Homo sapiens: one gene and its partners. The protein of the gene in region 2 purifies or fractionates together with the protein of the main gene of each other region. This does not show direct contact. Each region holds a gene or a part of one and is shown on either strand. Other genes may lie near its edges.

Region 1 (8,066 bases), on a different chromosome or scaffold from region 2:
CATTGCTACATTGTCTTTCTTTTAATGATTTATCACATGTTATAGCAAGTGAACATACCATAATAAATTTAACCACACTTACTTTGTAATTTGAGGAACTTTAATCAACATGTTATGAGTGATAATATTCTACACCTAAGGAAAGAAGTCATAATGAAAACTTTCAGATAGAGAAGTTATTTAGATAGTATAAACAGTGAAATAATAAACATCCTTCCAAACAATCATACCAAGATGAATATTTTATTGCAATTAGGCTAAACAAGAAGTGAATTTGTATTTGGAATTTTTTTGTTTGCATAAAGACCATATTTTCCCATTTGTGTTTACACTGTAATGAACCATTGTAGAAGGTGCATTCCACATCAATGTGCACTGCAGGGTGCACTGCAGGGAAACAATACGGTGTAGTGAAAAGCATTTGGGTTTTGGAATCAAATGGACTTGAACTGCTGTGCTCTGAAATGTTATGTTCTGCATAAAAAGACTTGTGCAAGAGTGCTCATAACAGTTTTATGTGTAATAGCAAAGAATTGGAAACAGCCCAGATGTCCATCAATAGGAAAATGGATAAACTGTGGTGTATTCACCCATATAACACTATTCAGCAATAAACAAAATGAACTACTAATATACATAAAAACATGGATGGATATCAAAACTATGCTCAGTGAAAGACTCCTTACACAAGGCTGCATTCTCTGTGGTTCCATTATATGAATTAAGGTTTAGAACAAGCAAAGGTAATCTATGTGGAAAAATATCAGAAAATTGGTTGCTTCTGGAGCTTTTTTGTCTTGAAAAAAAGAACCTAGTATTGAACTCTATTTAATAATATGCATTCTGAAGTATTTCAACTTACTTTGATATGTATAAAAACTAATACGGATCGACTGATGGATGGAAGAATTGTTATATATAGATGTGAATGAGCAAGCATGGTAAAATGTCGAGTGTAGGTTTTCCTGTGGGATTCAAATTTTTATAATTCAACATTGGAAAATGTTTTGATCTTAGAAATGTTTCATAAACTTCTCGGTTTCAGTTTCTGCAAAATGGAAGTAACGGTATTTACTTCACAAGGTTTTTGTGAAGCTTTTAAAAAATTGCCATGAAAATAGGCATGCTCTATGGTAGATGTTTACGAGCCCTGTGAAGCTGCTTGTCTTTCATCCCCTCTTCCCCGCTGTGCCAGTTTATAAGTCAGGATAGGTGTTTTTGGATTTGGTAGCATTGCCTATGAGCAGTGGTCCAAAGTGGTATGTAGCAAAATTATTGGGGTTATGAAGAATGAACTGTCTGCTGTCTGCTGATTATGAATTCCTTGAGTGGAGGAACAGATTTTAATAATGGAAGTGGCTCAAACTCCAGGGAAGATGGATAGCCTGTGGTTATACTTGGTCTAAAGGAATTGGCAGAAACAGAGAGGAAGGACAAAATGTCATAGGCAATCATCATATGGATTTTAATATTTAAAAACTAAATAGTTATTTAGTCACTAAAAGCTCTATTTGTGAGCACTCATTTATCTAACAAATATTTATTAAGTGTCTACTGCATGCCTGGCATTGTGTTAGGAGCTGGACGAATGTGCAAGATAGAAATAGGTGCCTGCCCTCTTGGAGCATACATTCTAGTGTTGCTAAAGTTTATTGGATTTACAGGGATCAGTCTGTCAGCCAGCAAATACTTACTGAGTATTTGCTGAGTGCCAGACACGCAGAATACTATAATAAACTAAACAAACATAGTCCATACTCTCATAGAGTTTGCAATCTAGCAGAAAAGGCAGATTTAATTGAATCACCGCATTTAACTGTATTAAATACATTATGGTGTGCAAAAGGCTGGGAAGGAGAAGTACAGGGTTCGTAACAGAATTGAGGCAGAGTTTCCCCCCTCTAGTCTGGGTGAAAAAAATTTTCTCCCCTAAACTTTTCTCTGAGTTAAGAGATTGAGGTAAGTACAAACAGAGCTTGAGATAGCCAGTGGCCCCGGTCAGGTCACCAGCAGAATAAAGAACAGAATTAGGAGCACCAGGAGGTGATGTTGTCAGTTGCATTGCTGAGCATTCTTTTTGACTCCTGGTTGGCTTACTATGCCTGTGGATCTCCTGTATGGTTTGGCTACACAAAACAGAGTGAGAACTGTTGAACTGCTTTTAACCATAGTAAAGTATTCTGGAATTAGTTTTGTCTTCTGTCTAGTCAAGCACTATAGCAAACACTCTAACACTCCCATGGGGCCAAGAAGCTGCTAGAAACACAGGTTGTGGGATCACGAAACAAAGCAATGATACAACTAACCCATTGCAAGAACATTTTCCCCCTAATGAGGTCATTGGTTCTGAGCAGAAAGAAGTTAGAAGCCAAGAGAATATAGAGAACTTATGGGAAACATATGTGTCTCACAGATAGAAACTGGGACTCCTATATAATTATAATGCACCCTGGGAACAAATAAAATGAGTTGTTTCAAACCATGGTTGCGTTACACATTCTTTAGTGGGGACACTGATGTGTGGGATTCTGAACTTCTCACCCTCTTAATCATAAGGGGCCTGGATTATGCCTGGAGGACTTCCATTTTCTAGCACTATCAGCAGACATACAACGGGTACATAATAAAGACTAGTTGAATTATTATAGGTTTGTTTCCATTTGCTACCTGTTTCCCTGAAAGATAAGAAAAATATAGAATTATTTAATGACAAGCAAAGGAAATGTACAAATAAGTGAATTTAGAACTTTGAAGTGATTCAGTTAAAATGTTGAAAAGAAGTAACAAAAATTTAGCTTCTGCTTATACAAGCACAAATTTGTTTTTCTGTCCAGAGAAATGCCTATGACTAAAAGCCATATTTCACGGCATCTTCTTAAAGTCGAGTAGGTCTGAAACCATAGGAAGCCAAGAAAATTAGAGAAGGACAAGGCTGGGAAGTTAGAATATAGGAGAGTTACAGCTTTAGACCTCCTGGATTCATAATCTCAGCTCTACCACTGATTAGCTGTGAGACTGTAGCCAAGTTACCCAACCTCCATTTCCTCTTCTATAATGTTGGTACCTGCCTCAAAGTCATCATCTGCGTTATTGCGCTTAGCACAATTTCTGGCACATAAGTGCTCCACACATGTTAGTTTTTATTCCAAATGATTTTTAAGATGATCTCAATTTCCTCTATAAGGCTTTTTTTTTTAATAAACATGATTTGTTGAATGAATAACTGAAGGTAAAATGTCATAACCCTGTAAGACTTTTTTATAAATATGTTCACAAATCAGAAAAAGATCCTCTCTCATGACCTGATTTTGTTTGAGATTACATGTCCACCACACGCACACAATGGGCCACTTAGTCTGGCCTCTCTGAGTGAGGAGTATCCTCCTCCTACCTACGCAAACATGAAACCTAACAGAGGATTCAGTGTTAATTTGTCTCTTAAAGACAATTCTGCATTAAGAAATGGATTACTTTGCTATAACCTCAGCATATAAAAAGTCTAAAGAATCTGTGCATTCTGAGTTTGTGTATTTTTGGTCTCAGGCTGTGATTTATCTGAAAGGCCTTGGAGAGAAAGATATAGGCCTTTACCTAGACCAAAATCAGGTTGAAACAATAAAGGTATTTTATGCTTTGTGTAAGCTGGTAAATACCATGACTTTTGGAATAACAGTCTTGCTGAAAAATTGACACACTTTTCCTTCTGGTATGTCTTTGCATAAATTGTTCCTCTTTCTGCAAGATTAACTGATACCATCTGTGAGTATTCTATCCCCACTCTCAGCTTGCATTTAAATCTGCATGTTTCCTTTCTCTGCCTCTTTTCAAAGGTGCTAGAATACAAGAGCTACCCTTAGCTAATGGCCAAACACTCCGTCTGAGTTCCCTTTCTTTTAACCCCTTGCTTCCAACTCTGCATCTAAAGGCAAAAACAATCCTCTGACTCACGGCCCTCCCCCTGCCTGTGATAGGCTGCTTGGAATAGCAACAGCCTGTGTCACCGAAAAGGGCAAAGCCTTCGGAAATAGAAACAAAGTTGGTCACAAATCACATTAGCTTTGCCCGAAGTTTTTCCCCACACTCTTCTTTAGCATGCTATTATGGGGAAAGTGACCACTCCTGGGAGCGGGGGTGGTCGGGGCGGTTTGGTGGCGGGGAAGCGGCTGTAACTTCTACGTGACCATGGTACCTGTTGAAAACACCGAGGGCCCCAGTCTGCTGAACCAGAAGGGGACAGCCGTGGAGACGGAGGGCAGCGGCAGCCGGCATCCTCCCTGGGCGAGAGGTAAAGTGAGCCTGCAGTGCTCGGGTGACCGCAGAGAAGCAAGCTGTACTCATCTCCCGAGTGTACTGTCTCTTGAGTCCCGTGTGTGTGTGTGTGTGTGTGTGTGTGTGTGTGTGTGTGTGTGTGTATGCGCGCGCGCGCATGTGGGCGCGCTGGATGAGTGGAGAGAAGGGGACAGGGTCTGGTGGGACGTGGGACAGCTCGGAGCTGTAATGTTGTGAAGATCGAAGTCTTGGTGGAACCTTATGTGCCAAGAAAATACAGGTTACACATCCACCACTGGTATGATGGGTCCCCTTGATTGTGTTTACATAATACAATGTATGGATGTTTTTCATATTGGAACGGTCCACTGGCAAAGATAGTCTCATTTGTAAACACACACAAGCACACGCTTGCTTACACTTTTTCATTTATTGTCACAAATGGACACTGTGTAACCAGTTGACATTATAACCACTGTTTTAAAAATCAGTATTTTAAACAGGCTTCATAAAATTATTAGTTATGTAATCAATGAGAACACAAACTTCCTTTTTAAATTCCCAGCACGTTTGTGATGAATTTGAGCGTTATTCAGAGCCTGAAACGCTTGCTTTGCTGGGTTCTGCCTTCTTTAAAACTGGCCTTGCAAACTGAGGTTTGTTTGCTATGATGACCTTCTGAAGGTGAAATTTGGAAAAGTTTTAATTCATTTAATGATCTTTGATAAATCAGAGGCTGGTCTTCACTTCCACATTTACAATTCCCACAAATACATTGTACGCTTTTTGCTGCCTCTTCCTGCTCATTTAGTTTGTGCTGCAAGGAATAGAAAGTAATTGTAATATGAAATGACAACAAACACAAAAAATCTTCTCTTTCCTACTACTTTCCTCAGCTGTGTATTCTTAATCAGATATTACATTCCCAAGCAGCATATAGAAATTTCATGCAAAATCCAATACACTAAATGATACAAAAGACATCTGCCTTTCTCTTGGGAATGGTCCTAATACTGACGTTTGCCTTGTGGGTTTGTCTGATCTTGGGGAATCGAACCTGTGACCCCTAACATCGAGGCATGAAGCGGCCCTCTTCAGGAGTGGAGAAGCCCTCCATCTTCCATGTCCTGATCTCTTCTCTTGCTTTCACACTTCTCGTCAAGAATGAGGCCGGGCGTGGTGGCTCATGCCTGTAATCTCAGCACTTTGGGAGGCCAAGGTGGGCAGATCACTTGAGGCCAGGAGTTCAAGACAAGCCTGGCCAACAGAGCGGAAACCCTATCTCTACTAAAAATACAGAAAAATAAAAAAATTAGCTGAGCATAGTGGCACATGCCTGTAATCTCAGCTACTCAGGAGGCTGAGGTACAAGAATCACTTGGAGGTTACAGTGAGCTGAGATCATGACACTGCACTCCAGCCTGGGTGACAGAGTGAAACTCTGTCTAACATAATAATAATAATAATAATAAAAGAATATCTGGGGTCATCTTTCAATATGGCCTGTCCTCTCCTATGCAGAAGTACCCTTTTCCCTAAGCGCTTGCTACTCATTGGCCCACAAGTTCCCTAAGAGCAGGCAAGGGAAACTTATATTTGGAGATAAAGGGAAAGAGTTGCAAAGTTCTTTTCTCCAAATTCCTGGGAACATGAGCTGCAGTCTAGACTGCAGAGCAAGCTGAGGTGGTGATGTTAACAAAAGGGCTCACTAAATACAGTCAGTGATAATGTCACAAAGAAGATGAAAAGAAACTGCCTAGGAAGAGCCTTTGTAGTAACCATTAAAAATGGACTGTTTATTTTGATATGGCTTTGAAGGTACAATGTGCTCTTAATAGCTTATATTGTACAAATTCACAATTATCCAGAAGAAAGATAATGTGTATTTACATTTGCAATAGTTGGTTACATGCACAAAATTCAACTTAAAGTGCAACTGTTTATGTTGTAAAGAAATAATAAATGAATAAGTACCATAAATTATCTTTCAAATTTAATTTTAAATTAACTTTCATTTTGTAGAAGAGAAAGCCTGAATGTTTCCTTAAAATGTCAGATGAATACAACTTTGATTTGTGCTATACATAATCTGCATTTAGATGAATGCAAACCTTTTATTTTCTACTTTTGTAAATTTTCTTAACTTATCTTAAACATCTTTTGGCACCCAAAAGCAATTATACATACATATGTATAAATGAATGCATAGTGCAGACTTGCTGTATGGTTTTCTTAAGTTACTTAAAGTCTCCATTCATTAATATTGGGATTGTATCTTCATCTATTTTATGAAGGTGTTGAGATTTAATGAGGTAATATTTGTCAAATACTCCTTTTGGCTTCTTCATATTTTCAACTTCCATAGTTTTCATTTAAGACATTCAGAGTATTTAAATTATGCTCAACAATTATCACAATATGTCTGCATTTGAAGGTAGCAAGCTTTTCTACATTCCTAGATGGAAAAATCAAAGCACAAAGAGGAATGAGTTATATAACTCAGGACAAGGTAATTAAATCATGTGAGATACTGAAAAACAAAACAAAACCAACCCCCTAAGGTCTGCAGTTGAACTCCCTTGATGCTATTGTGCACAGTGAAAAATTTTGGTAGGTCTTTCTTGACTAACCCTCTTTAACTGAAAAGAATGCTTTGTTCCAATGACTAGAAGCTAATGAACTTAATTCATTTTCAATAAGCTATGACTCAAAGTGGTTACATTTTTAGTAAATTTTTTCAGCTTTCATGGACATGTTCCAATCCATCTTAATATAGGACAGGATTAAGCTCAGTTTGAAATTCTGGTGCCTAGAGTTGACAACAGATATAAATGAAGTGAGATATTAGACGGATGGAGCAACTCACACAAGGGAAATCTGAGGTCAAAAGATGTGTGATCGGCCCACGGTCACACAGAGGATGGTGCAGAACTGACCCTGGTGGCCTCTGGCCCAGGAGATTCAATACTGACTTCTACTTCAGCTCCCAGGCTTCCTTTATTTCATGATCCAAACAATTGGCTGGGGACAGAGTCCTCTTAAGTTTCCCTTCACCCCCAACTGTCCAAAGGTTCAGAAAACAAGAACAATATTTACTGTATGAGTGCAGGTTGTCAGCACTGCAGAACTCTCTGGCACTGGGACCCAGAACATGAAGAACGGGACTCACGAACTCAGCTGAAAGGACTGTCCTTTATCCCCTCTGAAGATGCCACAGTCTGGAATTTAAGAAATACACGCTTCTGCTCAGCAGATGAACATTCTAAGGCAGTTGTTCTCAAAACGCTTTTAAAGCTGTGAACTCCTTTTTCCTAAATGGAAGCTGGGCAGGTGGTGAGTATGTAAGATGTAACTGTAACTAAGTTCCTACTGAGTGCTGTTCTCCCGGGTTTAGCTTAAAATGGGCCCCCTGGAATTTCGTCAGGCCTGGCTTTCTCAGGCTTCGTCAGTCAGCTCTAGGGGAAGTCAACTTGTAAAAGAGACGGAGACTTGGAAACAAACTCATCCTTAGGGAAGAGGGAGTCAGGCCAACCAGCTTGGGCAGATGTCAGAGCTTTGGTTGTGAGAAGACAGATTCTAGTAAGAGGCCAGTTACCTTGGGCAGACCCAGGCATCTCAGAGTTTTTGATGCTGGGCCATTCCCATTTTTCCACACTTTCTATATATTAAAAACAATTAAGCATCAAAACCCGTGACAAAAATTATAGTGCTTTAAAAACATATGTATTTAACAAGTCAACATCTGATAACAATGATTGTGTCTACTGTGATACGTATTTCCAAGGAAATAACAGGTT
Region 2 (6,498 bases):
AGGTGTGGCGGCAGGACCACCAGGAGGGGCCCTCACCTGAGTGCCTGGGCGGTGAGGAGGATGAGCTGCCTGGGCTGGGGGGCGCCCCCTTGCAGGGCCTCACCCTGCCCAACAAGGCCACGCTTGGCCACTTTTATGAGCGCTGCATCCGGGGGGCCACGGCCGATGCAGCCCGTACCCGGGAGTTCCTGGAAGGCTTCGTGGATGACTTGCTGGAAGCCCTGAGGAGCCTCTGCAACCGGGACACCGACATGGAGGTGGAGGACTTCATTGGCGTGGACAGCATGTACGAGAACTGGCAGGTGGACAGGCCACTGCTGTGCCACCTTTTCGTGCCCTTCACACCCCCCGAGCCCTACCGCTTCCACCCAGAGCTCTGGTGCTCCGGCCGCTCAGTGCCCCTGGATCGCCAGGGCTACGGCCAGATCAAGGTGGTCCGCGCCGATGGGGACACATTGAGCTGCATCTGCGGCAAGACCAAGCTCGGGGAAGACATGCTGTGTCTCCTGCACGGCAGGAACAGCATGGCGCCTCCCTGCGGCGACATGGAGAACCTGCTGTGTGCCACAGATTCCCTGTACCTGGACACGATGCAGGTCATGAAGTGGTTCCAGACGGCCCTCACCAGAGCCTGGAAGGGCATCGCCCACAAGTACGAGTTCGACCTGGCCTTTGGCCAGCTGGACAGCCCGGGGTCCCTGAAGATCAAGTTCCGTTCAGGGAAGTTCATGCCCTTCAACCTGATTCCTGTGATCCAGTGTGATGACTCGGACCTGTACTTTGTCTCCCACCTTCCCAGGGAGCCCTCTGAGGGCACCCCAGCCTCCAGCACAGACTGGCTCCTGTCCTTTGCTGTCTATGAGCGACACTTCCTCAGGACGACACTAAAGGCACTGCCCGAGGGCGCCTGCCACCTCAGCTGCCTGCAGATAGCATCCTTCCTGCTCTCCAAGCAGAGCCGCCTGACCGGTCCCAGCGGGCTCAGCAGCTACCACCTGAAGACGGCCCTACTGCACCTCCTACTCCTCCGGCAGGCCGCCGACTGGAAGGCGGGGCAGCTGGACGCTCGTCTGCACGAGTTGCTGTGCTTCCTGGAGAAGAGCTTGCTCCAGAAGAAGCTCCACCACTTCTTCATCGGCAACCGCAAGGTGCCTGAGGCCATGGGACTCCCTGAGGCCGTGCTCAGGGCCGAGCCCCTCAACCTCTTCCGGCCCTTCGTCCTGCAGCGAAGCCTTTACCGTAAGACACTGGACTCCTTCTATGAGATGCTCAAGAATGCCCCAGCGCTCATTAGCGAGTATTCCCTACATGTCCCCTCAGACCAGCCTACCCCAAAAAGCTGACGTCTTTTACAGAATGTGGGATCCTCGAGCTAAGATGAGGGCATCCCTCACGTTCACACCCCTGGTGGCATCTGCCAGCCCTGTTCTGGGGACAAGGCGGGCTTTCGTGGGAGCCGTGCTCAGCCTGCCAGGAAGCCAAGCCCTACAGTGCAGAGGAAACAGAATTTCAACGGGAAGCTGGTTTGCTTCATACCATTGGGATCTGCTGGTAAAGCTGTTATTTGGGTTTAGGGACTGATCCCTTGCAGTTTACTTCTGGATCACCATGAATGGCCAAGATGGTGGCAGAACACGCTGTGGACCCTGAGTTAGAGACAATGCAAATGTTGGATTGGGTGTAATTCTTTTTGAATCCCAGATCCAGTCTGTACTTGAATATGAGCAGAGGATCTACAAGAATGCTGACAGGGAACCGTGTTAAGACCCAGCACCCCTATTCCCAGGAGCTTCTGGCCTGACCATCTGCAGCCAAAGCACTAACAGGGACAGATATGGGAATGTCCACCTTTGATCCGCATCCTGCACAATAGTGGTCCCACCATGGCTGCCACTTTTTTATACTATTTGGAGAAAAGACCTTGTATAAATTCGAGGCCCAAATGACTAACGTCTCTGTCACACGGAAATGGGTACTTGGTGGCATAGAGAAACACAATTAGCCACTTTTTCAGCTACACTTCTCACTCAGCTGCACCCTACACTTCTCACTCAGGTGCACCCCCTTCTGCTGTCCTTTCCCCAACGTACTGGGTCCCGAGCGTGGTGGGTATTTGCCACACTGGGTGCCAGCTCAGCAGCCCCCCACCTCTCTTTATTCTCTCCAAAGCTGGTCTTTCTGACTATCATTGTGGTAGGGGGAGGACAGATGCTAAAGGTGGAAGCTGACCTGGAGAAAGAGACACACGGGGTGACTGTGGCAAAGGACAGCTGGAAAAGAAACTCTATCACTTCTTCATTGGCAACCACAAGGCACCTGAGGCCATGGCACTCCCAGAGGCTGTGCGCAGAGCCAAGCCTCTCAACCTCTTCTGGCCCTGCGTCCTGCAGCGAAGTCTCTGCTGTAAGACAGTAGACTCCTTCGATGAGGTGCTCAAAAATGCTACCCGGGGTGGTGGTGTCTGGCTTGCAGTCTGGCCCAGTTCAGAGAAAGTTGCAGAGATCAGGGGCCAAGGATGTCATAGCCCCAGGTTGTCCTCAGGGTCCCAATCCTAGGGCAGGGTGTGCATGGAAGCAAGAACTATGGAAACCTAGCTCCAGTCTGCAGGCTCTGAGCCCCTAGTTCCTCACTCCAGCGGGGCTCCCTCACTGCACAGAACCCACCCCTTCTGTGTGGGCACTGCTGACCACACAGATGACCCAGACCCAAAGAGCCTGGCAGAAGCTCTGTGGTTGGAGCTGGGCTCCGTCTCCAGGTCTGGTTCAGGGGGATCAGGAAGGCTCTTTTCCACCTGTGGCTTCACTGGCCCTTTGAGATTTCCTATCTCACCGTTACTTCAGTTACCCTTGCAGGGGGCCAGGGAGTCAAGAATATACCGTGTTCCTCCAGGGTTTAAGCCGGCCATGCCTTCCCGAGAGCATAACCAACTTGACAGGGGTGCCCAGTTACCCCACAAACTGAAGGAAGGAGATCCTTCCCCCATCCCCAGGAGTGCTCTCAACCAGCCTCAGAAAGCTTGAGAAGATGGACCCTTTGCCCACCAGGGTTAATTCCTGGTGGGGCAGCTCGGCTGTGATCAGGGCAACCAAACCTATAGGAAGCCTTCCAGTGTGAGCTGGAATTAGACTGAACATGTGCTTGGGCCTGCCTCTCCCTAGACGCAGTTGCGGGGCACTCCAGGGAATGAACCAGCTCAAGTGTGTCCCTAACAGCAGCCTGGAGCTACCCCCAATCCCTCACAGCCTGACCCTCCTCATTCCATCAGATGCATTTGTAGAATCGGGGCAAATTTCCTTATTTATTTATGGCCCATGCCTTTCCCCCTCTTCATCCTGATCCCGTTTTGCTTTGAAGAGACCCCAGTAACCAAAAAACAGCCTCCAGAAGCCAAAACCATGCCTGGATCTCCCATAGCTTCTCCTTTGCTTCCAGGAGAAAGTTCACTGAAAAAAAAATATCTTCTGGCTTCTTGTGTGTACAGAGACAACAGAACTCGGTGGGGAAACGGGAATCTTTTCTGCACCAAAGCTGCTTCTAAAGCAGAAAGCAGTGGGGCTCTTGGTGTTTCATGCTGCCTTATTTATATTAAAGGAAGAATTAAATCTTGCAAGGAGTAGAAATGGTCACTGTTTGTTTTTAACTTCAGGAAATCTGTGAGGCTCCCAGGGCAGAGTTGGGGACAGGGGGGTGGATTTCCTATTGACAAAGCAGAAGCTTTCACTCCCTTTTTATTCTTACACTTTCAGGAGACTTTAAAAAATAACAAAACAGAACATTTCTACCCTGTCTTTGAGGCAACTTGTGTGCTGCCCGCAGGGCTCCAGAAAGGGCCTTTGAAAGCTGGCTGTAGGGTGGATTCCAGCCTAAGACCTTATTTCACAGAGCTAATGTCAGCGAGAAATATAGGAGCTGGAACTAACAGGAAGCTTTTGGGTTTTAAAGAAAGAGATTGTATTTTAAATAGAGGATTTTGAGTCCTCTAGGGGACTTTGGCCTTTCCACTAAGGACAACCCTGCCCTCTTTCCCCAGAGTCTCTTTCCCAAGGATGCTTGACTTTCCCCAGCAACTGCTCACTTGCTTTGCAAAATAACAAGGGTGAAATGAATAGAGTTGGCCCCTAGGCCAAGAGGCTGGTTATGTTGGGGAAGGGCCTTATATCCTCAAAAGCTCTAGCCCCTCTGCATGCCTGGCTGAAGCACAGCCCCCGTTGAGAACCTGGGGGTGGAGCTCTGGTTCATCATCAAGGGTGTCATCCGAATCACCCAGACAACCTGGTCCATTGCCCCGACCCCGCCTTGAACCTACATGGTGCTCAGAATCCAGTCTGGAGTGGTCAGGCTAGGCTCGATTTTTAAAGATTTCCCCCAAGTGACTGATGGTACCCCTAGCTGAGGAAGCCCTCTCACTTTCTTTCTTAATGGAAAGTTAAAGAAAACCCAAGTGGACTACTTTCCCTACAGATCTATTGGAAGATAGATAGACCTGGGAAAAGCCAATGAGCCTGCTTGGAATCTGTGGTCTAAGTGGCATCAGCTACACCACAAGCTTCTCATGAGGGCACCCACATTCACGCTAGTGCCGTAAGCCTCAGAGAGAGGGTGGGAAGGCATAAGATGGTGAGCCCTTCTCCCAAGCAGGTCATGAATAGTCCACAAGCATTTGTCAGGAGCCTAACGTGCATGAGACATTGTGGAAGATGGGAAAATGAATAGGACCAAGCCTGTTCCCTAGGAGAGGCAGCAGAAGGTGGCCTTCCAAGTACTGAGCTATTCCAAGTGTGACCCTGCACTACACATACGGGTGTCACCTGGGGGCAGCTTCCTGGGCCGTGTCACAGACTCCAGTGGGATCCTGAGAAGTTAGGTAGAAGAATCTGCACTTCACCAAGTTCCCCACCTGATTCTGGATGTCCAAGAACCACTGGTACCTGGGCTGATTAGGGAAGGCCTCATGGTGGGGCGCTGCCAGATAGAGACTCTGAAAAATGACCAGGACTGTGGCCAGGAAAGACATTCCAGCCAGAAGCATGGAGTGAGGGTGGGAAGCACCTACTGTATGGCAGGCACCGTTCCGCACACACATTTGTTAATGCACACAGTTCCATGTCAGTCCTATGATGTAGGTGCTATTCTTATCCTCCCTGCTTTCCAGATAAGGAAACAGGCACTGAAGGGGCAACTGACTTACCTACTGTCACAGTGGTAAGTAGCACAGCCCAGATTCCAACCCAGGCAGTCCTGGTGTACATGTTGGCATATACTGAGAAGTCGTAGCAAATGAGGTTGAAAAGATAAGAGTGGGGCTGAACCATGCAAAGCCTTGAATGCTAATACAAGGTAAATTTGGACCTCACAACAAGCAGAGGTGGGCCATTGGCGGGTTTTGAGTGAGACAGTAACTTGATTCACCCCCAAACTAAGGAGTCCTTATCTATGTGATCAGTGCCATCCATGTCCTGTGCTGTAGGGTACATGGCCGGCTTCCCGAGCAGGGTTGGTGGCAGCTGGCAGTGGTTGGTGAATGTCCAGGAAGTCTTAACTCAAGCCACCCCAAGGCTGTGATTCAGAACATTTTCGTGGTCCGTCTCATCTCCACCTCACGGGACAGAGCTGGAAGGCTGTTTGGTTTGGCCAGCGACCGAAAGCAGAGGGAGCCAAGAGTCACAGAGTGAAGGGCAATGTGTGCCTTCAACAGGGCCCTCCCTCTCCGCCCCACTCTGCCTTGCCCCACCCCTGTCCCTGGGAAGGGCATCTTTTAGAGTTAACTTTTCTCATTGCCATCCAAAAATAGCTTGCTTGTTTAACTAGTTTGTTGTTTAAAAAATAAACATAAAAGCAATAATACAGTCATAATTTTAAAATTCAAGTACTAACAGGAAAATTAAGTAACAGACTAACGGTCCCACTTCTGACTTCTTAGTCCACTCCCCAGAGATAACCAATATGAAGTTTTTGGTGTATCCTTCCAAAATTTTTCTGTGTATGTGTCACATGTATGTATATATATATGCATCCTTTTAGTCCTTTTTTACATAAATGGCATCATACCGACTAATTCTTCTTGGTTATCTTTTTGAACATTTGGCTCTACCTTATTCTTTAAACTAGCTGCTTACTGGCCGAGTACATTAGCTCACACCTATAATCCCAGCACTTTGGGAGGCCAAGGCAGGAAAATCGCTTGAGCCCAGGAGTTTGAGACCAGCCTGGGCAACATGGCAAACCTTGTCTCTACAAAAAATATATAAATTAGCCAGACATGGTGGCGTGTACCTCTAATCCCAGCTACTCCGGAGGCTGGGGTGGGAGGATTGCTTGTGCCTGGGAGGCAGAGGCTGCAGCGAGCCGTGATCACTCCACTGCACTCCAGCCTGGGTGACAGAGTGAGTAAGACCCTGTCTCAAAAAAAAAAAAAAAAAATATATATATATATATATATATATATGGCTGCTTACTATCTCACTGTCTGTATGCATGTACCATAATTTACCCAACTTT
Region 3 (7,365 bases), on a different chromosome or scaffold from region 2:
GAAGGTGGTGATGTACGTGGAGGAGGTGATGATGGTGGTGATGAAGGTGGAGGAGGTGATGGCGATAACGGAGGTGGAGGAGATGGTGATGGTGGTGATGGAGGTGGAGGAGGTGATGGTGATGATGAAGGTGGAGGAGGTGATGATGGTGGTGATAGAGGTGGAGGAGATGGAGCAGGTGATGATGGTGATGACGGAGGTGGAGGAGGTGATCACGGAGGTGATAGAGGTGGAGGAGGTGGTGATGGAGGTGATGATGGTGGAGGAGGTGGTGATGGAGGTGATGGAGGTGGAGGAGGTGGTGATGGAGGTGATGGAGGTGGAGGAGGTAGTGATGGAGGTGACAGAGGTGGAGGTGGTGGTGATGGAGGTGATGGAGGTGGAAGAGGTGATGATGGAGGTTGAGGAGGTGATGATGGAGGTGATGGAGGTGGAGGAGGTGGTGGTGGAGGTGAAGGAGATGATGGTGGTGGTGAAGGAGGTGGAAGAGGTGGTGGAGGTGGAGGAGGTGATGATGATGGTGATGATGGTGGAGGAGGTGGTGATGGAGGTGGAGGAGGTGATCATGGTGGTGAAGAAGGTGGTGATGTACGTGGAGGAGGTGACGATGGTGGTGATGAAGGTGGAGGAGGTGATGGCGATAACAGAGGTGGATGAGATGATGATGGTGGTGATGGAGGTGGAGGAGGTGATGGTGATAATGAAGGTGGAGGAGGTGATAATGGTGGTGGAGGAGGTGGAGGAGGTGATGGTGATAATGAAGGTGGAGGAGGTGATAATGGTGGTGGAGGAGGTGACGATGATGATGATGGAGGTGGAAGAGGTGATAAAATTAGTAACATAGAAAGTAGAGGTGGGTGTAGACAGAGTTCACAGCTGGTGGTCATGTAATGGCCACTATGACGATGAGGAGGAGGGGAAAGAAAGGACTAAAGGGGATCAATACCCTGCCCACCTGGAAGTCTGAGGAGGCGAGGAGAGATGATGTGCTTACCCCAGCCTAGCACACCAAGCTTGAACACATATCTGCGGATGTAGATGTTGTAGACACGCCCGAGGAGGAGGTAGAGGTTGAAGCCCTCGATGGCCATCCAGGTGAGGCAGCTGAGCAGCGCGTAGTGCAGGGCAGCGGCCAGAGCCGTGCATGCTGACCCGGGCACAGGAGACATTGCGAATGCGGGGCTCAGCAGGAAGGCGATGTTCAGGAGCAGCACGGAGGCATGCAGGTTCATGTGGATGCGTGTTAAGGAGTCACTCTGCTTCCTGCAGGTGAGAGAATGGTCCTCCATGGCCCAGGGACATCACCCAGGCAGCACTACCCACTGGGTGCATAGGTGCATGCCGACAGGGAAACTGAGGCGAAGAAGGGGCAGGGATCCCACAGCAGTCGCACCACAAGGCTGGTCTCCCGCCTCCTGGTCCCCACCCTCTGGAGAAGCACACCCAGTTCTAGTGGACTAAATGGGACACAAGGAAGCGTGATGTGCCACAGTGCAGGGCAGGCCCAGCACTGTGGCAGCGGAATACCTGAAATGGAAGTGCAGCAGGACTGTGATCAGCGAGGCCACGATGGAGATGCTGCAGCCCACGAGGGAGATGTACGTAAGAGGTGCCAGCAACTCTGCAGGGACCAGGGCTGGGGAGAGTTGCTGCAGGAGGGAAGAGGGGCTGGAGGCCAGAAGCATAGTATCGCCCTTCCTCCCAGCCTCAGTCAGAGGGACCTCCTGAGGCCTCCTCTCCAAGTCCCCTTCCCCACAAGCCTAGCCATGGACCTGGCTTGAACAAGGCCATGGCAGATACAGTCAGTTTTGCCCCCTCCACATCTCCCATCTCCCTCTTCTTCTATGAGTGCCTCCCTTCTCCCACTCCCTATGCACCTGTGGGGTTCCACCACTTTGCCCTCTTTGTGCAGAAAGGGGTGCCAGGCCTGGTCAAGCAGGGCCCTCCCTCCTTCTGCCTATAGCGATTGGGTCAGGGATGAGCACATGGCTGGCAGAACTGGGTAAAAGAAGATTTTATTCCACTGGCCTGAAAGCTAGCAGGGCATGAGCCTGGAACTGCTGCCAGCTATATTATTATCTCATAAGGAGATCCTATTTGAGGGCTAAGCCAGCACAGAGCAAGCACAGTTGAGGGACAAAGATAGAGTGCTATCTTAGTGATCTTAGTGATCAGCCCGTGGATCAAGCCATGCCTGAAGCCTAACCCAGCCTTTCCAGAAACATGAGTCCATAAAGTTTTTTTTGTTTTTTGCTTAAGCCCATTTCAGTTGGACTTTCTGTCCCTTGCACCAGCTTTTGCCTTGCTCCTCTGCCACAGACACAGGGCCCTCTGTAGCTCTGAGCCCCACTCAGGATGCATACATACCATGAGAACAGCAAAGTAGGTGAGGTGGTTGCAGCGGCAGAGCACCTGAGAGTGGGAGGGCTGCTCTGTACGACAGCCCTCAGGGCTCCAGCCCCCCCAGGGCTGTTTCCTGGCTCCCTCCTTCCAGAAGACACAGGTCAGGGTGTAGCCTTCCTGGGTGGAGATGCTGGGTCAGTCATAGGGTGCAGAGGAAAGGCTGCAGATCAGTGTCTGGGAGTCCTGGGGGCCAACGGTGACTCAACTGCACATTTGCCAACATTTTACCAGGCACTGGCTGGCCTTTGGCTTCAGACAGTCTCAGATTCCTGTCCCACCTCCACTGTGGGCTCTCAGAGTGACCCAGGCAAGACACCAAGTTGCTCTGAGCCTCAGTTTAGTCATCTACAGAATAGGATCATTCGTACCCATGTTACAACAATGGTGGAAAAACAAAGGGCAACACGGAATCTTGAGTGTCCAGCTCTGGCCTTTTATACAGTAGGCGCTCCATAACCAGCTGATCCCTTCCCTTCCTCCCCATGGGGAACAGCAATGTGCTCAGACCCACGCCTGGTTGGGGGAGACTCATCCACAGACAACCCTAATGCCAAGCCACGTGGGTGGAGAAGTGGAGGAAATGACACAGGTAGTCACGGAAGACCATGGAGGGTAGGCAGAGCTGACCCAAAGGGAGAAGGGGAGGTGGGGGCCCTGAACCCTTAGAGGACGTGTTGGATTTCAACACGAGTAGGGCAAGGGCATTCCAGGTGGAGGGAACCATAGTGGCAAAAGCCCAGAGCTGAAAGGAAAGGATGATGGTGAAATTTAGAGTGCAGGGCAGTCCTGGTGAAGCTGAAGGGAAGATGAAGCCAGAAAGCAGAGGCTCCGGGCTTTTCAGGAATGCCAGGAACCAGAAATGGAGGCACTGAGGCTTGTGAACCACCCCACTCTGCCCCCACCCCCAACAAGCAGCCCTGTCTCTGTTCCAGGATCAGCATCTGCACTTACCCTAGGAGCTCACTCCTTCACCCCAGTCCCTGGGCCGTGTGACCCAGGCCTGGCCAATCCACACATTCCATCCCCCTGGGCACAGTGACAGGTGCAGGGATGGACATGTGTGACCCAGCTGAACCTTTAAGATCCTGAGACCCTGATCTGCACTGGGGCAGGTTGTGGGTGGGGAGTCGGGGGAAGAGCCTGATGGGAAGAGGGAAAGGAAGTCTGGCTCTCCAGCATCCATCATGCCACAGAATGGACAGCCAAGACAGGAGACCATTGCTGAGACGGAGAGAGACTGAGCCACAAGGGCATCAGATCCATCCCTGGATCCAGCTATGTCTGAAGCTGGTGGATCACCTCTAGACATTTCATGGATGTGTGCCAATCAGTTCCCTCTGTGCTCAAGCTGGCTTGAAGTGGTCTTTTCTTACTTGCAACTGAAAGAATTCTGACAAATGCATGAGTAAAAACTTCTCTCTCTCTTATTTCTTGAGCAGGAATTTTCAAAGTGTGATGGATTTCCAAGATGGTTCCACAGGTTTGGGTCTAGTCAAACCAGTGTTCAACAGGAGAGTCACAGAGGGGCAGGGGTGCAGTGGAAACGGGGGCGCCCCCAGCAGTACCAGGCTTTGGTTGTGCCAGAAGCTGATGTTCACAGGATCCCTGAGGTTGTTCACGTGCCCATGACTCAGCTGGGCCCCCAGGACGTAGTTATTCAGCAGAGATGAGTTGTTTTCATCCTGGAAGGGCAGCAGGAGAAGGGCTGAGTGGAGGGGAAATGGGGAGGCCCTGGGTAAGGTCTGAGCTCCGCTTCCCTGGATGAGAACAAGCAGCAAGACTTTCACGTGTGCAGCGTGAAAGCTTTCTCAGCCTCCCAGCCTCCCAGCCTTCCCAGCCTCCCAGCCTTTGCATGTGCTGTTTCTGCCCTGTGGAAAGCTGTCCTCTCACCACCCCCTGCTCCACCTCCCATTCGTTTAATGCATTCCAGCCTCACGCCCTCCACCTCACCACTATCCTCACTCACTTTCAAAGCCAAGGTTGAAAGGCACCTTCCCCAGAAACTCCCCTGGACTGCCCACTGGGAAGAGCCCCAACCCCACCCTGACTCATCCATCACTCTGGATCTCTATGGCTATAATCAACCTTCTGCTGACATTAAATCTCTAAGATCAGGCCAGGCTCAGTGGCTCACGCCTATAATCCTAGCATTTTGGGAGGCCAAGGCAGGCGGATCACTTGAGGCCAGGAGTTCAAGATCAGCCTGGCCAACGTGGTTAAACCCGGTCTCTACTAAAAATACGAAAATTAGCTGGGCATGATGGCACACGCCTGTAATCCCAGGAGGCTGAGGCAGGGGAATTGCTTGAACCCAGGAGGCAGAGGTTGCAGTGAGCCGAGATCATGCCACTGCACTCCAGCCTGGGCAACAGAGCGAGACTCTGCCAAAAAAAAAAAAAAAAATCTGTAAGGTCTTAGTCTAGGCATCAAGACAGAGAGTTATCTGAGGGCAGGGAATAATAAGTGCCTTCTTGTCTGTCTCCCGCCTACCGACAGGCACATCGTAGGTTTCTTAGGTCTTATTTGCAGATTGTAATTATACCTTCCTACCATTCTGCTAAAGTTGGCAGGGAAACTGAGGCCCAGAGAGGGACAATTGCTGGCTTGGATTGCACAGATGGCTGGTTGGTCTCACTCAGTGCTGGTCACCCAGAGGCCAGGCAGTGACATGGGCACCTGCAGTGGATCCCAAGAAGGGGCCGGCACCCACCCTCCTTGGCCCGCCATCACACTGACCTTGAAAAAGTGGGTGTTGGAGAAGTAGATACAGATGAGCCGCAGCTCCCTGGGGCGGGTCTTGCAGGCGTCCCGGGTCAGCTCGGCGGGGAACTGCATGGCGTGCTGACCCCGGGCATGCTGACCTCCTGCCTGCAGAGGGTCGCAAACAGGCTGTTTGGCAACCAGGACCTGGAGACCTGACCCCAACACCTTCACTGCCTCCCACTCCCCGTGAAACCTTCCTTGGGGTTTCCACCCACAGAACCTTCTCCCCCCAGGCTGCATCTCCTCCCAAACTTCCCAAGATCCCAGGCCTTCCCTCCATGCTGTTCCTGAGTTTTGGATGTTTACCTGACCCACTGAACCCCTGAAGATGGAGCTACCTCAGCACCCAGCCCCAGCACCAGCCCCAGCCCCTGCCAGGGATCCAGCTGATCACCCCAGGGTCCTAAAAGGAGCCAGGGTTTCTGGCCTCTCCCACAGCGCCTCCCGCAGCGGGCAGCCTCCAGCCAAAGCAGGAAGAAGATTCTGCCCTGCAGGGGCAATAAAGCACCTCCCTTTCCACAGTTCACACAGCGAGTATGAGCCCCATTTTACAGAGGAGGCAACTCACTGCCAGTTAGGGCAGAGCCTGGACTGTGGGGTGTGGGGAGGAAGACAGTGGAGCCTAAAGAAAGTCCAGACCTTAAATGCCTGGAGGACTTCTAGGGCGGGGCAGCTGGCCACACCCCCCAACCCGCAGCCTCTGACCTGGGGCACCCGCTTCAGAGTGGCACTGGTCAGCGAGAGGCCAGAGAAGTCACAGCTCAGCTTGAAGGCCAGAGACTGGATGGTGGGTGTCTGCAAGGTCAGGTTGTAGCCTGGGAAGCTGGTGTTCAGTAGCATCTGCTCCAGCTGGTGGAGTTGACTGCAGCCCAGAGAGATGGCCAGGGAGGCCAGAGCCCGGAGTGGGGTAAGGGTGAGAGGGGGCTGTAGACAGCCTGGGAGGGCAGGGCCTCCCCACCCACACCTCTGTCACACGCACCTCCAGACCACTGCACACACAGTGTCCTTGGCACACTGTTACCTCCCTACCCCATCTATCCCCTCCTCTTGATTAACTCCTGTTCAGGTCCCAGTTTATTGTCACCTCCTCCAGGAAGCCTTCCCTGACTGCTCCCTCACAGCTTCCCAGTAGCCACTCTTAGCCCTGACCAGTCTTCAGCATTGGCCGCTCACCTAGAGCTGCTCAGTCTTTGGGTCATAGACCCTGGAGAGCCCAGCCAGAATCTTAGACCCCCTTCCCAGGAAAATGCATGGAGACCCATAATTCTGCACTTAGTGTCATGACATCTATGATTAAGGGCCCCCATTCCTCGATGATAAACTTCATGAGGGCAGTGACATGCCCATCCTGCATCCCCAGAGCCTAGTGTCAGGCATGCAGTAGGTGCTCAATAAAAGTGCTGAAGAAATGCACAGTTAAGAGTCTACATTAGACTAACCCTGACCCACTGATTCAAGGTGCAGGCTTGGGGTGGGAGGCACATCCAACTCACCGAGAGGAAAAAACTGAGCTCCGGCCCCTGGACACCTGCATATTCTCCATGTAGCTCAGGAGTTCTTCCCATGTCTCTGTGGGGACACACCTCCCCCTCAGTTTGTGTCTCAACTGCCCTCTGGCCCCACAACCTCTGGGCTTTCCATCCCACCCTGAGAGTCTAGTTCACAAGCAGCTCCTGCTGCCCCCAGGAAGCCTAAGTGGCCCTTTTCAATCTCCCATGGTTTGACGCCTCCCCCTTTTGCATCACAGTCCCACGACTGGGCTAGGGCTGCCCCCAGTTCAGCAGAGCCCCCTTACCTGTTGTTGCATTCTGCAAAGTCAGAAGGCACAGGCACAGGAAAAGGGCACCACAGTGATCCATGCCCTGTGCAGAGTCTCCTCCAAGAACTGGCTCCGGCCCTGAAAAAGGTGCATGCCATCACCATGATGATAAAAGAGCAACCTCTAACTTCTAGGTGTCTGGCATGTCCCAAGAGTAGGACATGCAGCATCTTATTTGACTCACCACTCCTGCATTTCACAGATGAGGAAGCTGAGGATGAAGGGCAAAGGGTCTTGCTTTACTTAAACCTGCCTAAAGCCAGGTCTCTAAGACTCCAGAATCCTTGACCACCAAGTAATGGCTGCCATTAGCAGCTCCGCCTGATACACTCCCCTTCCCAAAAAGCAGTCTTTCTGGGGGCTTCCCCAGGATCCCAGTC
Region 4 (7,365 bases), on a different chromosome or scaffold from region 2:
GAAGTGACTGTCAGAACTGACTAGAAATGGACTTGAATTTTTTTTAAGAATAAGTTCAATGTCAATTCATTCTATGAATTTTGCTTCACTTCCCCACAGGAAGGGGATGAAGACCCGTGTCCATCTGCACTTGGGTGAGTTTGTAAGTTTAATGGGATTATTTTATCTATTAGTAACATAGTTATACACTCGTCTCATCTCGAATTACTTAGGAAAATATGTCATCCATTTAATGTCTTCAAATATCCTGAAGTGCCAGGAGGTGGCACTTTCGAGAGAGCAGCAAAACTGTCACCTGTCCTGTGGAATCACAGCAGCCTGCGGCTTCTTTTAAAGGCTCTGTGATTTGTTTTTTTCCTGGTACGCTCCTTGGTGGTTCCTGCAGCAAAAGTCCACAGTATGAGTGTCCACATGCTGTTCTCTGTCCTGGTGGGAGCTGCACATCAGCCCTGTCTCCTGTCTGCCGTGAGCCCTGCACGCTTTCACTTGATGCTTCCCAAAACAGTTGTGTTGTGTAGTGGAGAAGAGAAGGGTAGTTCACACCCCTTCAGCAGCAAAGAAGCAGTCCTGAATATTGAATCTTTGCAGTTTCCATCCTAAATGGCTTGGCTGAGCCGCCATCTCCTTGTTTCAGTGCTGGGCACCACAGGCCTGCAGCTTCTTAGGCTCTGGGAGGAGGCGCAGTGGAAATTGAGGTCGCCGTGAGGTCGCTCCAATGTCGCCGTACACTGTTGCTGCCTGGCTACCTTCCCATCTCTGTCATCATGGAGAGTGTGGGCAGGGGACCCCTGGCCCTCTTCCTTCTTCTCCTGCCCCGGGGGGAGCAGCAGAGAGCCAAGGGGCTGGAGGAGGGTAAAGACGTTATTCATATTTCCATTTGCTTCCTTTACATTTTGATTTTTCAGGCCAGTTGGGATTTATTGTTGTATTCAGGGAGTTAAGAGATAAGGTTATTTTATCCCAACGAAGTAACTGTTGGTTTTCACCTCATGTATTAAATATTGCACCTTTCCCCATCAAATTGAAAGGCCCCTTTTCTGGTTCACTGTGTTTCCCTAAACACAGGCCCAGGTCTGTGTCTGTCTCATGGGTCTGTGTCCTGGAGGTGCATCATCTGTTTAAATTACAGAACCTTATTTAGCTACTATATTTTAATATCCTGCAGGCAAATAAGCCTCTAAAGATTTTTTCATTTTTCATTTACTTTTGACAATTCTTACACATTTATTTTTCCATATGAGCTTTCAGATGACTTTGTCCAGTTCCTAGACACATGAAATTCAAGTTCCAGTTACATTAGTTACACACTTTCCATTGGGAGGGGACCACATCACAGCCCCCACAGAGAGGCAGCAAAGGTCCTGGAAGTCAGAGTCTCCACCATGGCCAGAAAGTGGAGTGCAGCCCCCCTTCCCCAGGTGTGCACCAGCCCCACCCCTCACAGACACCGGCAGGGGCTCAGCCCACAGCTTCCTGGGCAGAAGAGACAGGGCCTGTGTCCCTGGAAATGTCACCATCCCTTACTCCACAGCCAGAGGGCAAAGGGCTTCTTAGATCAGGACAAGGCCCTGTTGGTAATGATCACAACTGCAGAGAATTCATGCAGACTTTTGCTTAGTTCAGCAGTCAAGGTGTATGGCTTACTGGGAAAAGTTCATTCCCTTTCAAACGACCCATTAAGTCTTCTATGAAATTGCTTTTCTTAGAAGGGTAATTGGCAAAACTACTGTGTAGATCCGAAGCACTTGAATATCACTTCAAACTATCATGTAACTATGGTCTTTTAAGTAAAATACAAAAATGCTTTCTCTGTGATGCATTTTGGGCAAGATTAATAGAAATGTAACTATAACCGGAATTACAAACTTTCTCTCTAAAACCAAAACAAAAGGAAAAACTAAAGTTGTGTAATGATTGCCAAATCGACATGTATATGTTGTAGAAAATTAGGGAATGGCAAGGATTTCCAGGTAAAAATGAAGGTCACCTGACCCACCTGACACCCCTGTGACATGTATGATGTGCTGTTTTATAAAATTACAGTCACCTTGTAGCCCAGTGTAGACCAGCTACACTAACGGAGGACACTACCTGTCTAAGGCACTGGTCTAGGGTGGGGCTCGCAGACTTCAGGGAGGTACTGCTTTACAGAATCCAAGTGGGAAGGAGTCCTGGTCCTTTACACGAGAAGCTCCTTCTGTTTCCCACTGTGCAGTAACCCGGGAGCACTCACACAACCTCCCGGGAGCTGCTGGTCTCCAGTTTCTGAGACACATGGGCCCCACTGCAGTGGTGCTTACAGGACACACTGTAGCCTCCAGTGCCATCCTGAGCGCCCTACAAAACTGTGGTGTGTTTCTTTCCTTCTGTTTGCCCCACCAGAGCCAAGGCCAGGAACTCCCGGCTGATTTGCAGGCGCCTGTGTCAGTTCTCCACTCGTGTACACCCAGACGGGGGCTCGATGGCACAGGTAAGTTGCAATCACTGGCGCTGTCCCCGAGGACAGGGCCATGTGCAGAATGTGTGGTCTGAGGTCCCCCAAGCTGAGGTTAAGGTAGTATTCAAAAGGGAAGCACTCTGTGTCCAAGGGTGCTGCTCACATGGGAATGATGGTGGGTGGAGCACAGAAGAGAGATGGAGTGAGAGGCAGGAATGCTTCCCAGCTGTGGGTGAGAGAGACAGACGGGTACCAAAGTGGGAGCCCTCAGCACTGCAGTGCCACCATCAGGCTGCGGTGATGGGCAGATGCCCAGGGCAGGCTCTGAAGTGCCCAGAACATGCAGTGAGGGACAGTGCCGTGATAAAGGATGGAGGGAAATTGGTAGCCATGGCAGAAGCTGTGTGCTGTGGTTTTAAAATAAAATGCTTAGGAAAGACTGTGTGTAGGAGACAGATGGGAATAGAGATGTGTTTGTGGTCACATGTGCACGTATGTGTTGGTGTGGTTTTGTGTGTGGTGTGTGGTCATGTATATGTGTGTGAATGGTGTGTGTTTGTTACATGGATACATGGACTCTGTGTCCGTCCTTCACGGGAAAAGCCCTGTGTGGCTACCGGCTTTAGGGCCACATATTTCTGTTCCTGCTCTGGGGTCAGCTTCCAGCGGTTTCTACTGGGTTGTTATTTATTTTTTGGAGATGGGATCTCACTCTGTCACCCAGCATGGATTATAGTGGTGGGATAATGGCTCACTGCAGCCTCCACCTCCTGGGCTCAAGCGATCTTCCCACCTCAGCCTCCCGAGTAGCTGAAACTACAGGCGTGTGCCACCACACCCAGCCAATTTATTTCTTATTTCTTAAGAGATGGGGTCTCACTCTGTTGCCCGTGCTGGTTTGGAACTTCTGGTCTCAAGCAAGCCTCTGGCCTCAGCCTCCCATAGCAGGGCGATTACAGGCATGAGCCACTGTACTAGGCTGTGGGGGAATCCATCTGAGAAGGCTTTGTGAGGCGGCCAGCTTCTGGAGGTTACAGGTGTCTTCTCCTTCCCTGTTGGGGCAGGGCCGCCTCACCACACTTCCCCAGGACTTCAGGGAACAGGCTCTTGAGACTTGGAAATGAAAAGGGATCAGCCAGCCTGGAGGAACAGCGACGCTGGCGTCCAAGCCTTGCCCCTTCCCTGCACTTCCAGCAAAGATATGGAGACACTCAGTGGAAACCGATTGGGCCCCCAGCCTGCCCCGCCCAGACTCACCCACCAACGTTCCCTCACTCCATGTGGCACACAGGCTCACAGGATTTTCTCTGCCTGCAATCGTCCACATGCACACCTGCTGCCGGGGTGCAATTGTGAGTCCCCTCGGTCTCTCTGCAGCATCTCGGTGTAGATGACGATTTACAGTCACCCTTGTGTGAAGCCACATGAGGCCTGGTCTGAAGCAGAGAAGATCCGCTCAGCATCACGTTGGATCCCAAGCCCGCGTCTCCGTGGGCTCCAGGACAATCCTATGAAAATAACACCGTCGGTTCATTGTTCACATCGGGGAGGAGAATTCCATCTGAAAATGCACGTGACTTCACTGACACCCGCGTCCGTGGCACAGCCCTGTGCTGAGCTCCACAGACCTACAGTCCATCGCCTCCCCTTCGAGAGGGCCCAGGGCTGCAGACAGCGTTGTCCATAGAAGACACCCTGACTCGATGAATGGAACAAACTGGAAACTCCAGAAACAAGCCCTTCTTTATATTTCTGGTGTTTGGCTTAAATGGAAGGTGCCAAGGTGAGGCAATGGGGAGACATGGAAGGGTGTGTAATGAGTGTGCTGCAGCAGCTGCATAACCACATGCCAAACACACACACACAGCTCAGTCCCACCTAGAAAGCAGTGCACAATCCATCAGAGACCTCATATTTAGAGAGGAAAGTTTAACCTCCCTAGAAAACTCACAGAATATGTTTTTTTAATACTAAATATACAGTTGTCCTCTTAAATTGGTTAAGAGCACAAAACGTAACAGGCAGAAGGTCTGTTTCAAACAAATTAAAAAGCTATGTTTTTTCAAGTGTGTTTTTAAAGTTTTCCCCAAGTGAGATATATACATACCCACAAAAATAGTGTGTGAAGGAAAGCTGTCATACGGAAGGAGTTGTGTCCTGAATTCTTCAAGGAAACACATATGGAAATATGAATTGATAGAGACAGCAACACATTAATAATTTTTTAAAATTGAATCTTAAAATGCTGCATGGCACAAAGCTATAGTATAAAGTATTGATAAGTACAAAGGGAAAAGTCTGTACAGCTTTTAGCAAAAATGCTTTTGCAGAAAAGCAAATTAAAATAATGCAAACAGCATACCGAGGTGGCCACAGCTTGACCTCAGAGCTACAACTTCTCATATCTGTGTCAGAAAATCCTATGTATCCAGAATAGAGTAAAATTTCAGGACAAAACATGGACTTTTTAACAGTTCTTACTTTACCCATTTTAAGTTATTTTTATCTCCCCTACCCCCCAGGGCAGTAATTCAGCAAGATCCAGCAGAAAGAGGGCTATTTGATGTTTCTTCCCATGGGGAGAGTGTCAGGGAGCCTGGACATTTCAGGCTCATGCATCCATGACCAGTCTCCCACTGGGGTCAGAAAAATTCAGCCATAGACTTGGTGAACTTGGCTTCCCGCTGCTGCTTTGTTCTCCTGCTGATGAAGGTCAGCTTCAGGGTGTATCTGCCATCAAACCTTTTAAGACTGGAGGGCAGCTCCCAAATAGCATCAGAATCCACTCCTGTAGGCTCTTTTCTGTGGGCCACGAGAAAGATGGTCTTCTCCTTAGATGAGGTCTAAATAGTCAGAATTCCCATCATCACAAAGCCAAAACGGGCTTGGACTCTGGAAAGGGATGCATATAATCCCAAATCACAGCCACTATGGCAAAGCAACAGGAGATTGTACAGATGGTGAGGTGACCGTCAATTAGACAAAAATTCTCCACGTATTTGTATTTTTCCAGAAGTATCTTTTTGGCAGAATCATCCAGAGTTTTTCACAGCTGATCCATCCCACTTGTCCGTTTTTCCAGGCATATCACTTATCTTCGACTTATCCACATGCCGCTACGGCCACTGCCTGTCCCGCAGCTGGAACCCCCGCCAACCCCACCACCGCCTGCGCTACCGCCCCCCTCCCGCCCGTGCAGCTGCTGCCGCCATCTGTCCGCCTCTGAGTCTCCCTCCAGAGAATATCTTTGTGATCTTCTGTTAAGCAATGTCTTCTTTGATAGATCCCAAAAACATTATTTCCGAAAAAAGAAGAATAAATGTGACTTTAAGCATTTAAAAATTTCCCTTCAATTGACACCATTAAGAGAATGAAAATATAAGCCACAGACTGAAATAAAATATTTTCAAGTCATATACTTGTATCCAGAATATTTAAAGAATTTTCAAAACTCAGCAATAAGAAAACTCTGTTTTCAAATGGGCAAAAGATTTGAACACAAAACTTCCACAAGGCAATAATATGAACGACAAAGCACATGAAAAGCTGCTCAACATCATTTCCCACCTGGGATCCACGAGCTAAAACCACAATAAGATAGCATGGCACCCATGTTAGAAAGGCTACAATAAAAATGATCAACAAGATAAGCCAGGCACAGTGGCTCATGCCTGAAATCCCAGCACTTTGGGAGTCCAAGGAGGCAGAAGGATGGTTGGAGGCTAGGAGTTTGAGACCAGCCTGGGCAACCTATCTTTAAAAAAATTAATTTTTAAAAAGATGAACAATACCAAGTGTTGGTGAATATGTGGGAGAATTGGAAGTCTCATCCATTGCTGATGGGGATGAAAGATGATGCCACATCGCCAAGCAGTTTGGCAAAGCTTCTGATGCTGAGTAGGTACTTATGATATGACCCAACACTCTCACCCCCAGATTCTTACCCAAGAGCAATGAAAGCAAGACTCTGTCTCTAAAAAATATAATTAAAAAGAAGATGAACAATACCAAGTGTTGGTGAAGACATCGGAGAACTGGAAGTCTCATGTATTGCTCATGGGGATGAAAGATGATGCCACATTGGCGAGCAGTTTGGCAAAGCTTCAGATGCTGAGCATGTACTTATCATATGAGCCAGCACTCCCACTCCCAGGTTCTTAACCAAGAGCACTGAGAACAACGTGTGTGCACACATAGCAGGTGTTTTTCTTTGCTAGAGCTTCCACAAGCAGGAACCACACATGGGGTGTTGGAACAAGAAATGTATTTTCTCACATATCTGCAGGCTGGAAGTCCCAGAGCACGGTGTCTGCAGGGTTGGTGTCTCCCAAGGCCTCTCTCCTTGCCTTGTAGATGGCCACCTGTTCTCTGTGTCCTCCCAGTCTTCCCTCAGTTTGTGTCTCTGTCATAATCTCCCCTTCATAAAAGGACACCAGTCACTCTGGATTAGGGCTCACTCTAGTAGCCTCATCTAACATCCATTACCTCTTTCAAGACCCTGTCTCCACATATAGTCACATTCTGAGGTACTGGGAGTCAGGATGTCAACCTATGAATTTGGAGGAGGATATAGTTCAGCCCATAATACAAGGATTGGGAGGAAGGGTGCTGTGTCACCACTGAGATCCTATTCCATGATCCAGGCATTCTTGAAGTACCATTACTCAGAACTGACTAGTAATGAACTTGAATTTTAAGAATAAGTTTAATGTCAACAAGGTCTTTGTTCATCCTATGAATTTTGCATCCCTTCCCCCCACAGGAAGCAGATGATGCCCCGAGTATATCTACACTTGGGTAAGTTCGTAAGTTTAACGGGAACGTTTTGTCTGTCTCTACACTTGCCTGAACTCAAATTACATAGGAAAATATGTTCTCTATTTAACATGTTCAAATAATCTGATGACATAAGGGAAAGTAGAAATGTT

What was found.
Region 1: the proteins of ITPRIP (region 2) and SLC2A12 purify together in Homo sapiens (co-immunoprecipitation; one large-scale study listed by IntAct). This does not show direct contact.
Region 3: the proteins of ITPRIP (region 2) and ADGRG5 purify together in Homo sapiens (co-immunoprecipitation; one large-scale study listed by IntAct). This does not show direct contact.
Region 4: the proteins of ITPRIP (region 2) and ZDHHC11 purify together in Homo sapiens (co-immunoprecipitation; one large-scale study listed by IntAct). This does not show direct contact.

What each region holds. Positions count from the first base shown.
Region 1 is NC_000006.12:134,048,597-134,056,662, reverse strand, and holds the start of SLC2A12 (solute carrier family 2, facilitated glucose transporter member 12), read left to right. Parts: upstream 1-4,038; 5' UTR 4,039-4,182; coding exon 4,183-4,285; intron 4,286-8,066. UniProt on the Homo sapiens protein: Insulin-independent facilitative glucose transporter.
Region 2 is NC_000010.11:104,309,253-104,315,750, reverse strand, and holds the end of ITPRIP (inositol 1,4,5-trisphosphate receptor-interacting protein precursor), read left to right. Parts: coding exon 1-1,343; 3' UTR 1,344-6,051; downstream 6,052-6,498. UniProt on the Homo sapiens protein: Enhances Ca(2+)-mediated inhibition of inositol 1,4,5-triphosphate receptor (ITPR) Ca(2+) release.
Region 3 is NC_000016.10:57,561,754-57,569,118, reverse strand, and holds part of ADGRG5 (adhesion G-protein coupled receptor G5 isoform 1 precursor), read right to left. Parts: intron 7,064-7,365; coding exon of another isoform or gene 7,026-7,063; coding exon 6,962-7,025; intron 6,736-6,961; coding exon 6,660-6,735; intron 6,029-6,659; coding exon 5,872-6,028; intron 5,272-5,871; coding exon 5,140-5,271; intron 4,086-5,139; coding exon 3,969-4,085; intron 3,831-3,968; exon of another isoform or gene 2,521-3,830; coding exon 2,368-2,520; exon of another isoform or gene 1,650-2,367; coding exon 1,528-1,649; exon of another isoform or gene 1,270-1,527; intron 1,264-1,269; coding exon 995-1,263; intron 1-994. UniProt on the Homo sapiens protein: Orphan adhesion G-protein coupled receptor (aGPCR). Ligand binding causes a conformation change that triggers signaling via guanine nucleotide-binding proteins (G proteins) and modulates the activity of downstream effectors, such as adenylate cyclase.
Region 4 is NC_000005.10:814,630-821,994, reverse strand, and holds part of ZDHHC11 (palmitoyltransferase ZDHHC11), read left to right. Parts: intron 1-99; coding exon 100-134; intron 135-634; exon of another isoform or gene 635-852; intron 853-2,382; coding exon 2,383-2,470; intron 2,471-4,703; exon of another isoform or gene 4,704-5,668; intron 5,669-7,199; coding exon 7,200-7,234; intron 7,235-7,365. UniProt on the Homo sapiens protein: Endoplasmic reticulum-localized palmitoyltransferase that could catalyze the addition of palmitate onto various protein substrates and be involved in a variety of cellular processes.